Homo sapiens: one gene and its partner. The protein of the gene in region 1 interacts with the protein of each later gene in a pairwise test. Each region holds a gene or a part of one and is shown on either strand. Other genes may lie near its edges.

Region 1 (7,038 bases):
CAACAGATATTCAGTCAACTGATAAACTAGTTCCACTGCTCAATTTGGGTCACTGCCCCATAAAATCCTTTCTCTCAGTTCTCTTTTGCCTTTCTCCTATGCTTCCTTTTCAACATAGTCTCCACCTCCATGGCAACTGGCTTGGTGCAGTACCTTGGCTCATGGCTGACTCCTGTTTGCCACTGGTGAGGGCACAGGAGTCAGCAATACGGGCAGGGGCTGGTGGGCGGTGGGTACCCCCTTGAGGGGGCACGTGACCAGTCTGAGTAAGGAAGTGGTTGAGGGAGTCACACAGATTGGCAATGTGATGCTGGTCGAGGGTCCAGTTCTTCTGCTCTGCCTGTCGTAGACTCTCCATCAGTTCTACAAAGAGGGAAGCAAGCAATGCAAACCTTGCAGAGGTAGGAAGCCCCTATCAGACCCCGCCCTATCTCACTGTTCCAAACACACCATCAATCACCCCCACTGATAACGGGCACTAACAATAACAATTTATATCTTTCAGAGCTCTGCATTTTCAAACTCTCATTCTATTTGATCCCTTACCAAATTCTTATAATTGCCATCTTACTGATGAGTAAGATAAACTTTCAATGTGACTGAGTGACTCAGCCAAGGTCACACTGTCAGTGAGTGGTGACAAAACTACAAAATCGTGGTCCACGGTCTCTAAATTCCTGAGGGCCTTCTCCCTCCCAAAGACAGAATGGACTAGGATTATTCACTGCCACATTTTCAGTTAAGACAAGATTAATTTGAGTTAATTTGAAAATAATGTAAATATGATCCATCTTGTGTAAAAAGAAAGAAAAACAATGAAATCCTCATTTCTGCAACTTCATTTAACCACCCCCTTCCGGTTCCAGTTTCTACTGGGTTTTCCCTTACAGTGTATCCCTCTCTTCCTTCGTCCTTTGATCACTAACCTGAGAATTGTGACTGCTCAATGCTGGACCAATTGAGCCGATTCACCATCTTGAAGCTTTCCTTTAAAGAGTCAATATTAGAGCACCAGTCAGAAGGAAAGGCTGTAAAGAGGAGGGGAAAGTGGATAATAAGATAGAGTGAAGTGTAAGACAGCAGTCAACTGATACCAGGCTGACTACATGCAAGATTCTTGCATCTATACAGATTAGCAGTTGCATTTCCAAGTTTTGGACTCTCCCTCCCTGGGAGTTTAGGACTGGAAAAGCTAGCTACGCTTTAAGTACAGCCAGGCTCATAGTCAGGAGAATATGTAAAACAATCTCAATTGATCCAGGAATTCTATAAGACAGAGCTCTAAGTAGTAACTTTGTTCAGATTAGCTCACATGAAGGAGCGAAGCCTAAAAGACCCATCATTAACTTCCTAACTAACTGCACCTCCATGCCGGTGTTAGGACAAGGACATCACCCCACCCTCCTCTAGATCACTGTGCACCCTCCTTACTCACCAAAGCCAGTGTTGTTGATGGGAGCCTGGCCTTGTGCCTGTGGCTGTGGAGGTGGTGGCTGCTGGGCAGGGTGGGAGTGGGGATGGTGCTGATGAGGGTGGTAGCCTCCATGCTGCAGCGGGGGTGGATGCATGGCCATTACAGGGGGAGGCCCATAGCCTTCCGCCCCAGCTTGCTTTCCCCCTGGTGGGGTACAACCATCTGTGCTTGGGGTGTGCAGTGGAGGAGCACCCCCTACAGCTGAGGGGCCCTGGGCAGGTGCCTGCTGCTGCTGTGGCTGGGACTGCTGGGGAGGTGGCTGTGGCGGCTGCTGCTGCTGCTGCTGCTGTTGAGGTGGCGGTGGCTGCTGCTGCTGATACATGTAGTAGTTGTTCGAGGGTGGGATGTCCCCCAGGAGAGAAGAAAAGCCTGCAGGTGGGGAGGAAGCAGGCAAGTGACTTAAGCAATGCATTTTTCACAAAATGGGATTTTCCCTGGGTTGAGATGGGAAGCCTCAGACTAAAACTGTGGAGTTAAAAGGGTAAGAACATTCTAGGGCAGCAAAGATCCCTGTGGCCCTCCTGGCAGGTACAAGAGACAGGAAGGCACTTAGGTTAGAGGAGGGCCCTGACAGTGTGGAGACCACTGAAATCTTACTAAAAAGGTCAGTGTGTAGCATTTAATGCTACTTTTTAGGGATTTGGCTGAAGGCCTGAAATCACAGTTTCCCAGCAGGTGAACTTTAAAAAGGAAACCATCCCTGGTCATCTAGTGTTTAGGGAAAAAAAAAAAAGTAAATCAGAAACAAAACAAAGCCATCAGTTGTCTACTATCTCCTCTTCCTTCCGTTTTTTGTTTTTTGAGACAGAGTTTCGCTCTTGTTGCCCAGGCTGGAGTGCAATGGTGCGATCTCGGCTCACCGCAACCTCCGCCTCCCAGGTTCAAGCAATTCTCCTGCCTCAGCCTCCCGAGTAGCTGAGACTACAGGTGTGTACCACCACGCCTGGCTAATTTTGTATTTTTAGTAGAGACGGGGTTTCTCCATGTTGAGGCTGGTCTCGAGCTCCTGACTTCAGGTGATCCGCCCACTTTGGCCTTCCAAAGTGCTGGGATTACAGGCATGAGACACCACGACCGGCCCCTTATTTTCTCTACACTCTGCTACTGCCAAGTCATTCCTGTACCCTCTATAAACAAATGTAGCTTGGGTAAGGAGCAGAGACAGGATGGAGTTATTTCTCAAGCAGACAGGCTGGGAAGAACAAAAGTCTGAGACTAGGGGCTTTCGGTCACAATAAAACTTGAGTGAACTCTAGGCTGTCCTCACCCAATCTAATTTTTTACTTTATTTCTGACAGTTTCTCATGTTCCCTCCTCCAATCAACCAACCACCTGAGTCGGATTCATTTTTTGAGCAAATGCTACAGTCTTGGACACTACTCTAGGAATTGATCCCCTGTGATATACAAGAAGAAATTCATGAAAATGAATATAAGTTTTCCAAAAAGTGACTCCTAACCAGTTTTTATCATTCCATTCAGCCCCTGCTGCCAACATAGGGCTACTGCACAGAATGAGAAGGTCTAATGCCTCACCTGAAATCAACTTCACCACTGTCTCTAAGTTATTTAAAAAACGAACACACAGATATTGCAGAGGGCCGAACCAGATGTTCTCTCAAGGGGCCTCCCAGTAAAAACTTTAAGTCATTCTCATATGATAATTAGGAAAATGTGCACGGACAAGATACTAGCTGATATTAAGGATGTATTATCAATTATGTTAGGAATGATAATGTCATGGTAGATAACTAGAAGAAAGTCATCATTTAGAGGTGTATATCGAAGTTGTATTTATGAGTGGAATGACATGGTATATGTGAATTCCATTAAATTACTCCAATTTTTAGAAGGCTCAGTGGTAAACAAAACAAGCCTAATAAAATACTGATAACTTAAAGTTGGGGGATGGAACACAGGGGTTTATTATATTTTTCTCCACACTTTTGCATCTGTTTGCAATTTTTCACAATAAAAGTAACATAAATGTAAATACACTAAAAAGAAACTGTTCTCACAATGAAACGCAGGGATTCTTCAGGAGAGGGTACTGCTGCTGCCCCCTCGTGGTCGTCCTCCAAATGACTCACTTGCAGCCCTAAAATCACTGCCCTTAGTCCTGGAAGGGGCAATCCTCCAATTCACTTTCTGAAGCTATTAGCCTAGCTTGCCTCCTGAAACAGCTGTATTTGCACAAGGACAGATGAGCTCACTTGACTCCAAACAGTTTTAGTTCATGAAATATTTCCTCTGAGTAGTGATACCTCTCTTTGTGTTAAAAATAAGAAATATGGGTCAGGCACAGTGGCTCACGCCTGTAATCCCAGCACTTTGGGAGGCTGAGGTAAGTGGATCACCTGAGGTCAGGAGTTCAAGACCAGCCTGGCCAACGTGGTGAAACTCCGTCTCTACTAAGAAATATAAAAATTAGCCAGGCGTGGTGGCGGGAGCCTGTAATCCCAGCTAATTGGGAGGCTGAGACAGAAGAATTGCTTGAACCTGGGAGGCGAAGGTTGCAGTGAGCCGAGATCGCGACACTGCTCTCTAGCCTGAGCAACAAAGAGCGAAACTGTGCCTCAAAAAAATAAAGAAAGAAATATGGCCGGGCACGGTGGCTCACGCCTGTAATCCCAGCACTTTGGAAGGCCAAGGTGGGTGGATCACTTGAGGCCAGGAGTTCGAGACCAGCCCAGCCAACGTGGTGAAACCCTGTCTCTACTAAAAATACAAAACTTAAGCCAGGCACAGTGACTCATGCCTGTAATTCCAACACTTTGGGTGGCCAAGGCAGGCAGATCACCTGAGGTCAGGAGTTCGAGACCAGCCTGGCCAACATGGTGAAACCCTGTCTCTACTAAAAGTACAAAAATTAGCTGGGTGTGGCATGCGCCTGTAGTCTGAGCTACTCGGGAGGCTGAGGAAGGAGAATTGCTTGAACCCGGGAGGCGGAGGTTGCAGTGAGCCGAGATTGCGCCACTGCACTCCAGCCTGGGCGACAAGAGCGAGACTCCATCTCAAAAAAAAAAAAAAAAATACAAAAATTAGCCAAGCGTGGTAGCACGTGCCTGTACTCCCAGATACTCGAGAAGTTGAGATGACAGAATTGCTTGAACCCGTGAGGCGGAGGTTGCAGTGAGCTCAGATCGTGCCACTGCACTCCAGCTTGGACGAAAGAGTGAGACCCTGTCTCACAAAAAATAAAAATAAAAAACTAAGGGAAAAAAGAAAATGTCACCCCACTTGTTCAACAAGATAAAAAAGTCTCCCTGCACCCATCCCAACTCCAGACTCACCGTGCTGAGAGGAGGAAGAGGACTTCTCCAGCATGGACTTATAGAGGTTGCGGAAGGACCAGCTTAGATCCTGAAAGTTGATCTCTGAGTAGGAGAATTTAAAGTCATGGTTGGTGTTATAGAGGGGAGGGGGACCCTCAGCACTTTCTCGGCCTGAAGCCCCTGCTGCCACTGCTCCACCATCCACAGATCCTGTGCCCTGCAAAAACAGGTAAGAAATTCCTGATCAGTGTCCCAGCTGAGGGACCAATAAAACCCTTCAATGGTCACCAGGCTCTCCTGTCTGTCCTCTTCATCCTCGCCTAGCTCTTCAATGACCCAGCATCATTTTCTCCTTCTTTCCTCATTAGTTCTTATCTTGAATCTACCCTCTTTCTCTCATCAGTCTCCATTTCTTCTTTTTTGTTTGTTTGTTTGTTTCTGAGGCAGGGTCTCGCTCTGTCGCCCAGGCTCCACCTCCCCGGTTCAAGTGATTCTCATGCCTCAGCCTCCCAAGTAGCAGGAACTATAGGCACATGCCACCACGCCCAGCTAATTTTGTATTTTTGTAGAGATGGGGTTTTGGCATGTTGGATAGGCGGGTCTCAAGCTCGTGGACTCACGTGATCCGCCTGCCTCGACCTCCCAAAGTGCTGACATTACAGGCATGAGCCACTGTGCCCAGCTTTTTTTTCCTGATGTTTCTCAAAGTTCTGCTATGCCTTTCTATTTCTCTCTCTCTCTATTTCCCTCTTTTGCCTTCCCCTTCCTTCTCAATTTATCTGCCTCATATATCACAGATACTCAATACATAATTCTGAATAAACAGGGAGACATCTGAATCTATTCACCACCCATCCCATGACCCCTGCCATATCTGCTTCCTACCTGGCTGTAGCTGGCTATAGATGTGGGGCTCTGAAGTGACATCTGCGGATTCCCCTCAGGAGGCAGTGAGGCTTCTCCACTCCCTGCAACGCCTCCCCGTGGGCTCTTGCTTGCCTCCTGTTCTGGTGAGTCTTGGGACAGCTGAGGGTTGTGAAAAAAAAGAAATCTATAAGCAGAGGCGCAATATCCTCCCAAGACCCATGGTTTCCCCTCTGCTGGTATTCCTTCCACCTTTGCCTCTGAAAGGACTGAACGTCCATAAGAGGAGGTGGAAGGAGCAGCTGGCTCAGATATGGCATCTCCTCATGAGCTGGGAACTTACATCATCATCTGGAGGGTGTCTTCTCTTTCGGGAAATGTCAGGGCAGGTGTCAATTGTCCAATAGGAACCCTGGAAGGAGATCCCATTCCCACAGAAAACAAAATTGTTACATTCAGAACCTCCCAGGGTTCTGGGTATTAATGAAGAGCAAATTTGTCCTAGAAACTCACTGAGTATGCCAGAGGTAATCCTGTGGTCCAAACACAGGCCTCGATTGTTTTGGAGGGGCAGAACAATGGCATCTAGCTCAAAGAGCTGGAAATGTCCAGACACAGCCTCTCCCTTCCCTTCTGACCTGAGGCAAAACTTGCTTGGACTTTAGCATCCACATCTGTCAAATGGAGAGAATGATCCATCCCTTCTCTTTTACGGGGGAAACACCAGGGACTTTTGTATAGAGATGTTTGTACAAAGGTTATTAAGTCTACCTTTTACATCTAGGAAAAAAGAGTGCCACACAAAAAAGGGGGAGCATGAAAGTCAACTTTACACTAAGTATTTCTATTTTTTTAAAAAAAAGATTTCACAGTCTTTTTTTTTTTTTTTTTTTTTGAGATGGAGTTTCACTCTTGTTGCCCAGGCTGGAGTGCAATGGCACAATCTCAGCTCACTGCAACCTCTGCCTCCCAGGTTCAAGCAATTCTCCTGCCTCAGCCTCCTGAGTAGCTGGGATTACAGGCATGTACCACCACGCCTGGCTAATTTTTTGTATTTTTAGTACAGATGGGGTTTCACCATGTTGACTAGGCTGATCTTGAACTCCTGACCTCAGTTGATCCGCCCGCCTCGGCCACCTAAAGTGTTGGGATTACAGGCATAAGCCACCACGCCTGGCCTCACAGTCTTTCTCAGTCACCCATTCTACTGGGGGCCCATAAGCTTGACAACCAAGCTTCCTCTGAGAAAAAAATAAAGATGCTTCTCTAATTAGCATGATTTCCTCTTCTGGGTAATTAAAACAGCCACAGGACTCTGGACTGTCAACTACTTCACTCTCCTTCCTACTCCTCCTTTCAATGCTTACAGTAGTATCTTACCTTCCCAGGGTCATCCCGAGGTCTGGGCACCTTCCGGAAACACTTG
Region 2 (7,038 bases), on another chromosome or scaffold:
GGTTCATCCTTCACCCGTGTTTTCAAGAAAAACTAAAGTTTTAAATTTATTTATTATTATTATTTTTTTGAGATGGAGTCTTGCTCTGTCGCCAGGCTGTAGCGGCTCACTGCAATCTCTGCCTCCTGGGTTCAAGTGATTCTCCTGCCTCAGCCTGCTGCATAGCTGGGACCACAGGCACGCCACCCTGCCCAGCTAATTTTTGTATTTTTAGTAGAGACGGGGTTTCACCATGTTGGCCGGGCTGGTCTCGATCTCTTGACCTCATGATCCACCCGCCTCGGCCTCCCAAAGTTCTGGGATTACAGGCTTGAGCCACTGTGCCCGGCCCTTAAATTTATTTTTAAGTTTTAATTAAGGAAATTTTCAAACATACATAAACATAAGAGGCTAATATAATGAGCTCCCATCACCCAATTTCAACAATTGCCAATATGTACATTTGTTTTAGACCAATTTTTTTTAGCTACTTTAAATTTCTTGAGGTTATGCTTATTCATGCACTTACCCAAATTTCATTTCTTTTTTTGTTCTTTGCTAGACTTGGAAAGATCATTGAATAATATTGCCCTTTATCTCAATGAAACAATAGCAAAGATATTGGGAGTAAAACAGAAAGATACACTGGACCTAAAATTGAAATTGTGGAAGAATATAGAAAGAAATATTAGATGGTTCTGCTTCCTGCCAAGAAAGTTGTTAATGGTCAGAATTTGTCTACCTCATCTTTGCTGGAGAAAAATCCAAGGGTGTTGAAGACCCCTTGGGAAGTGGTTCCTGTAATGTACAGCTGTATGGCCCCCCCTAACTTCAAGCATGATCATTGCTTTCAGGCTAGCAAAGGATTTATCCGCTCGCTACTCCCTTTTGGAGATTTTAGACCATATCCAAGATAAATATTGGTCATAATTTGCTCCTTTTTCTTTGGCTGCCTAGATCTTGAAAATGGCTGTTTTCCAGAGAATGTATAATTTTTAGAACCAAAAGTCCCTCTGCTTCAAACAGCTCACTGTAGACTCACTAGTTAGTGACTCTAATAAGAAGAACTACCTTTTATTGAGCAGTTTGTATTGTCTGGCACTGTGCTATGCACTTTACAAATACTATCTTGCTTAATCTTCAGAAACACAGTCTTAAACATATTGAGTGATTAAATACTGTGCCCAAAGTTTCAAAGTCAGTGGTAAGAAACAGTTTAAATGGGGGCTGGGAGCTCAGGCTCAGTGTTAACTAACTTCGTGGCTTTAGGCAAGTTGCTTGGTTTACACCAGGTGCAAAATGAAAGGAAATAATGCCGTAAAGCTGTTGGAGGAAGAAGCATTAAATAAGATGATGTTTATGAAATGTTTAGCAGAATTCCGAGCCTTCATCAGTGTTTTAAGTCTCCAGAGGGGAAATTTGGGATCCTAACCTAGATTTGTGTAACTCCAGAGACTGTGTTATTTCCTTTTATTCTCTCCTACTTCCGACCTTTCATTTATTCAGCAAATGTTATGGAGTGTTCAGCCTGTGTGGGATGCTGTGCAGGGGTGGTGGTGCCATGATGAACGAATTTATACTTTCGTATACTTTGAATTGTAGGATGGTCTCATTCACACTTGACTAATTCTTAGGCTTAAGAAAACCCTCAAACATTGAAGTGGGTCAGTTGAGTACATTTGAAGAAAAAAATAGAGTACTGTGCTGATGTTTTCCTACTGTTTTATTTATTTATTTATTTATTGAGACAGAGTTTTGCTCCTGTTGCGCAGGTTGGAGTTCAATGGCGCAATCTTGGCCCACCACAACCTCCGCCTCCTGGGTTCAAGCGATTCTCCTGCCTCAGCCTCCTGAGTAGCTGGGATTACAGGCGTGCGCCACCATGCCCGGCTAATTTTGTATTTTTAGTAGAGACGGGGTTTCTCCTTGTTGGTCAGGCTGATCTCTAACTCCCGACCTCAGGTGATTCGCCTGCCTTGGTGCCTCCCAAAGTGCTGGGATTACAGGTGTGAGCCACCGCGCCCGGCTTCTACTGTTATTTTTAGGAAAACATTTATTGATAGGGTTTGTTCGTAGGATTCCTGACCAGACTAGCTCTGGAAGGTGGCATTGTGAGGACTGCATTGTGAACAGACCAATTGGTCCTCCCCTGGAAACAATAAGGAGGAATGATGAAACAGCAAAACATTTATGAATTAAAGAAGATGTGTTGCAAGGTGGTGTGTTTATTCCTTGCTGTTGAGCAATAACAGTTTTGGCCCACCCTTCTCATGTGAGGTCAGGAATATACATTATTTAATGGAGCTTATCATGGTTGCAAACTACTTTAAGGGAAAAATGAAGCAATGTACTATGAAGTGATCTCGCAGGATCCAAGTGCAAGAAATGCAGTCAGGGTTCTCAGAAGCTTAGAGGTATGAACTAGGAAGCAGAAAGTCCTTAACATCCAGGACAGCTGGTGTGTTCTTTTCTCAGGAGCCTCATGACCTCCATCTTTGCTTCCCTGCTTTTGCTCTTCATTTCTTATCCTCTTTTCAATCCAGCTTTTGCTGCCTTCCCATGCACATGGCTCAAGATGGCTGCCCCACAATGGCCACCTCAGCCTTTAGTTGCAGATGAGCAGAGACTTCAGTAACATTCCTGGATCCCTGTTTTCATCGCCTGGGAGAAAGTCTGATTGTCTCACCTTGGCTCAAGGGATCTATCAGCCGTAGTCTGGCACAGTGGGAGGCATGTGGAAACCATGCATCACAAATATGGTTGCCAGGGCCCATGAGAGTTATAGCTCTTAGAGCACAGAGTTTGAGAGCTGGATACCATAAATGGTATCTCTGCAATTAGAATCTTAGAAATCTACCTGTGAATAAGGTATTTTGGGGAGGAGTGCTGCTGAGTTTGAAGCTCTGGAACACTGTGAATAAGGTATTTTGGGGAGAAGGAGTGCTGAGTTTGAAGCTCTGGATCATCTTTCTGTAAGGATGTAAGGGATTCCTATAAAAGCTTTTGTATTAAAAATAACTTAGCTCCTGTAGGAAGGAAATTACTCCACAGTAATAATTTACAGAATACAGTCCCAGTGACAGTGAAACAAGTCTCTCCAATGGGCAAGTTTTCATGGGGTTTTTTGTCTATTTTGTGAATGACATTTGGAAACAAAAAAGGCAGGAGGGTGTGTGTGTTTAATTTGTAATTTCTTTTGCTCAATTTTGGGCCACTGGCCACTTCACTATAACCTTATCTGCTTCAGAGAAGTGGATAATAAAGGGATATCGATTTAATTCATTCACAGATCACTCAGTGCTGCACACTGTGGGAGACCTGTCCGTGGATGGGGAAGGGAAGTGCCCAGTGATTACAAAACCACCTGAAGAACTAAGCTGAGAGTTGAGTGTAGTGTGCAGTGGTTGTCACCAATTCTTTCTCTTTTTCTGGTTAAAAAGTGCACGTTTACGCTCATTAGTCATTGTTTCTCTTTGGGTTTTCTCCAATTTCTCTGTTAATTTAAAATGAAGCAACCAGAACAAGTGATCAAAACTATACAGGATGTTAATAATATGGGTTTTTAGGGCTAGAGAGATATTAGAAGTCACATCTATCCAATGTCTCAGTCATTCAGCAGTTGTTTTCATATTTGGAGAGATGATATCTTGAGCAGATCCTTGGGAAGGGATGGATAAAAGGTACTTTAATAGAGAAAGGGTGGCTGGGTGCAGTGGCTCACACCTGTAATCCCAGCACTTTGGGAGGCCGAGGCGGGCAGATCACAAGGTCAGGAGTTTGAGACCAGCCTGGCCAACATGGTGAAACCCCATCTCTACTAAAAATACAAAGTCTAGCCGGGCATGGTGGTTTGCGCCTGTAGTCCCAGGTACTCAGGAGGCTGAGGCAGGAGAATTGCTTGAACCTGGGAGGTGGAGGTTGCAGTGAGCCGAGATTGCACCATTGCACTCCAGCCTGGGCAACAGACCAAGACTCCATCTCAAGAAAAATAATAATAATAATTAAAAAGAAAATAGAGAAGGGGCTACGCTGGCTGGGTCAGACAGACTGGGACCAGGGTCAGTAGGTTAATTCAGTGGCATCACCATTTTATTTGGGAATTTTAAATATAATTCTGACTGAAAATTGATAAACACCCTTAAGTGGAGTTATGCAAGCCTGTCTCTGCATAAGGTTTTGGAGTATCATGAATGATTTCCCTTTCTAACCTTTCTGCTTCAGCTCAAGCAAAATTGGTAAAATTTTTCCTGATTCCTGAATCTCCTGGAAAAACTTGTAATTTCATAAGTAACAAACAGCCCTCCATTTTATGACCCTATCCCAAGAACACACCATGTATGAAAGATTTCTCTGAGGAAGCTTAAAGGTCAGGGTGGCGTTCTACCCAACCTCTAATGAGCAGAGTTTAAGCACTGCCAGCATCTTGTGTACTTCCGGATAAAGCTTGGAAGGCTGCTCACCTGTGGGCCATGTTTGGTTTGGCAAGGCCTCTGCTTTTGACCCAACTTTGCAGCCCTAGGTAAATTAAATTACATTTTGATCTGTGCCCACTGAAGACCAAGAAGTAGCTTGCAGGTTAACATTATGGAGAAGGTTATTAACTTTTTGTTAATTATTACGGCAACAGACTCCACAATTCCTTGGTAGCAGCACTTTGTAGTTGTTAAGTGATATTGCTCTAAGAAACGGGTGTCGCTTTTCTCTAGTGTTTGTCAAATGCACATGTTCTGACAGTAATGATAGTTCAGATCTATTTTGCTGGGCATCTGCCAGGGGTGCCCAGTGGGTAGCTGAATCCAGAGGCACTGGAATTGTAAATACAACAGACAAATCATTTGATGGTGCCAGACTAAGGAGTTCAGCTTTGGCAGATTGCCAGGAGCCGTTGATTGGGCTCAGATTCAGTGCTATGTGTCTGTTTGCCAAGCAAGATTAGTTGTCTTGGTTAATTATACATAGAATTTGTACCCCCTTTCTCTCGATTATTTCCATCTTAAACCGGTATGACATTTACTTTAATTTTGCATCTTGTTTTGATATTGATTTGTGGGTGAGTTTCTGTCCCTGTTTTTGGTGAGTCTGTAGTGACTACGTTTTCCTGCCCCGGTCCTAACACAATCCCAGCCTTACAGACCCTGGGTTTGCTGGTGTATAATGCAGGCTTTCACATCTTGTATTGGATTCATTTGGTACCTTGTTACTTAGTGTTCTCCGTGTTCAGTACAGTGTCAATACCTCCTTATTAAATCAAGCTAATTTTTGATTCTTTAGAAGGTACAATGATTCTCAAGTTCTGGAGTACATGTGCCTATCTTATATTAAACATTAGTTTTTCTTTACAAAATGAGGCCAAAATACTTATTGTTGCCATACAAAAATAATTCCAGAATACAAAGAATCAAATAATATGATAGTAACCTCAATTCTTTGTCAGTGGGAAGAAAACAAAATGAAAAACTCAATTCCAGGTGTCAATAACATCTATTTTTTATTCTAATGTGAGACCCTGAAGTTCCATCTTTTTGAAGTTGTCAGGATAATTTCATTTGAGCATTGCTTGGAAGCTGTAAGGATATACTGTTTGGGACCCTTTTATTTATTTTTATAGAGATGGGGTTCTGCCATGTTGCCCAGGCCTCCCAAAGTACTGAAACTACAGGTGTGAGCCACCAGGCCAGGCCAACAAAACCCCTTTTAAACACAAAATATTGAAGATTCAGGCAAGAACATGCAGTATTGCTAGAGAAGGGCCTATTGTGCTTTCTTTGTTTAGTTTTACTTTTTAGGTTCACTATAGAACCTCAAGTTGTCTTTTTTTTTTTTTTAACTAAACTTTCTTTCCTTTCTTAGTAGAAAAATCCTTGAGGGGCCCTTTCTTAGTAGAAAAATCCTTGAGGGGGGAAGTTTTTTAAAGTAACTTACTGTAACCATAAATCACTTGCCGTTGGTTCTTGTTCTTCCTGTAATCCATTTTATGTACTTTTGCTAGAGTGTAGTAGTCCCAATTCCAATTCTAATCATGTAGTCTCTGTGCTTAAAACAAAATAATCCAAAAATCCAACCATGCTCCTTCTTCATTATCTACTATACAACACTGTAAAGACTGTAAACTTAGCCAGCTTTGACAGCCCTCTACATCTGACCACATCTGACCTTTCTACACTTAATTTCCCACCACTGCCTTCCTTTCCTCCCAGTCCCTGAAATGCTAGAAACTAATTTGCCAGGCATAATGAGCTTCCCCATTGTCTTCCACTCATCAAAAATCCATCTCTACCGCCTTCTAGTGCCTGTTCCCTGAAGTCTTCCCTTCTGCTCCCCAGAACTCTGTCGTGGCTCAATCCAGGCTGCCCAGTACATGGATTTATTGGGCTGTTTATGCTGTCCACCGTGTGCTTAGAAATTCCTTGAATGCAGAGACTGTTAAGCTTTGTATATACTTTTAGTGCCTAGAACAGTCCCTTATACTTCATAGGTGCTTGTTGGCTTAATTTCATCTTCAAAAGGAACTTTGATTTTGATGGATATTTGAATGTTAAAAAAAAAGCTAGAATTTTTTTTGGGGGGGATAGAGGGGAATGACGGGGGAAGATGGGTGGCTGCAGCTTAGTCTCTAATTCGATGCCTAAGTATTTAAATATTTTATTAGAGTGACATGTTATGTGAGACCATCTCAATGGAGGACCTTAGCTTTGTAAGTTTTTTTTTTTTCTCAGTTTCGAAATCCTAGGTTTCACCCTAGAAATACCCGAGTCACACCTGGATCCTGGCAGCTCATACCTACAGGTCTGGCTCAGAGACGCCAGGGCCACGAGGCTTAGGGCCCCAGGTTCTGGTCCTAGCTCAGCCCCTGGCAAGTTTCATGGTCCTCCATTTCCACTTCTTTATGGATGAGTTAGATACTTGTTTTCATTTTTGAACTTAAATTTGGTCAGCACCTACCACTTGACACTAGGATGGACACTTCAGATTTTATTTCATCTTCCTATGATCTTGGGCAAGTCAGTTCTCTGAGCCCACTTTCATCATCTATAACATAGGCACAATAATACTGTATGT

What was found. The genes of interacting proteins can lie anywhere in the genome.
Region 2: the proteins of FOXJ2 (region 1) and EGLN3 interact in binary tests that used the Homo sapiens proteins (3 or more experiments, as listed by UniProt).

The regions. Positions count from the first base shown.
Region 1 is NC_000012.12:8,042,687-8,049,724, reverse strand, and holds part of FOXJ2 (forkhead box protein J2), read right to left. Parts: coding exon 6,993-7,038; intron 6,287-6,992; exon of another isoform or gene 6,198-6,286; coding exon of another isoform or gene 6,126-6,197; intron 6,025-6,125; coding exon 5,956-6,024; intron 5,775-5,955; coding exon 5,634-5,774; intron 4,966-5,633; coding exon 4,767-4,965; intron 1,844-4,766; coding exon 1,436-1,843; intron 1,029-1,435; coding exon 927-1,028; intron 364-926; coding exon 154-363; intron 1-153.
Region 2 is NC_000014.9:33,941,062-33,948,099, reverse strand, and holds part of EGLN3 (prolyl hydroxylase EGLN3), read left to right. Parts: intron 1-7,038. UniProt on the Homo sapiens protein: Prolyl hydroxylase that mediates hydroxylation of proline residues in target proteins, such as PKM, TELO2, ATF4 and HIF1A. Target proteins are preferentially recognized via a LXXLAP motif.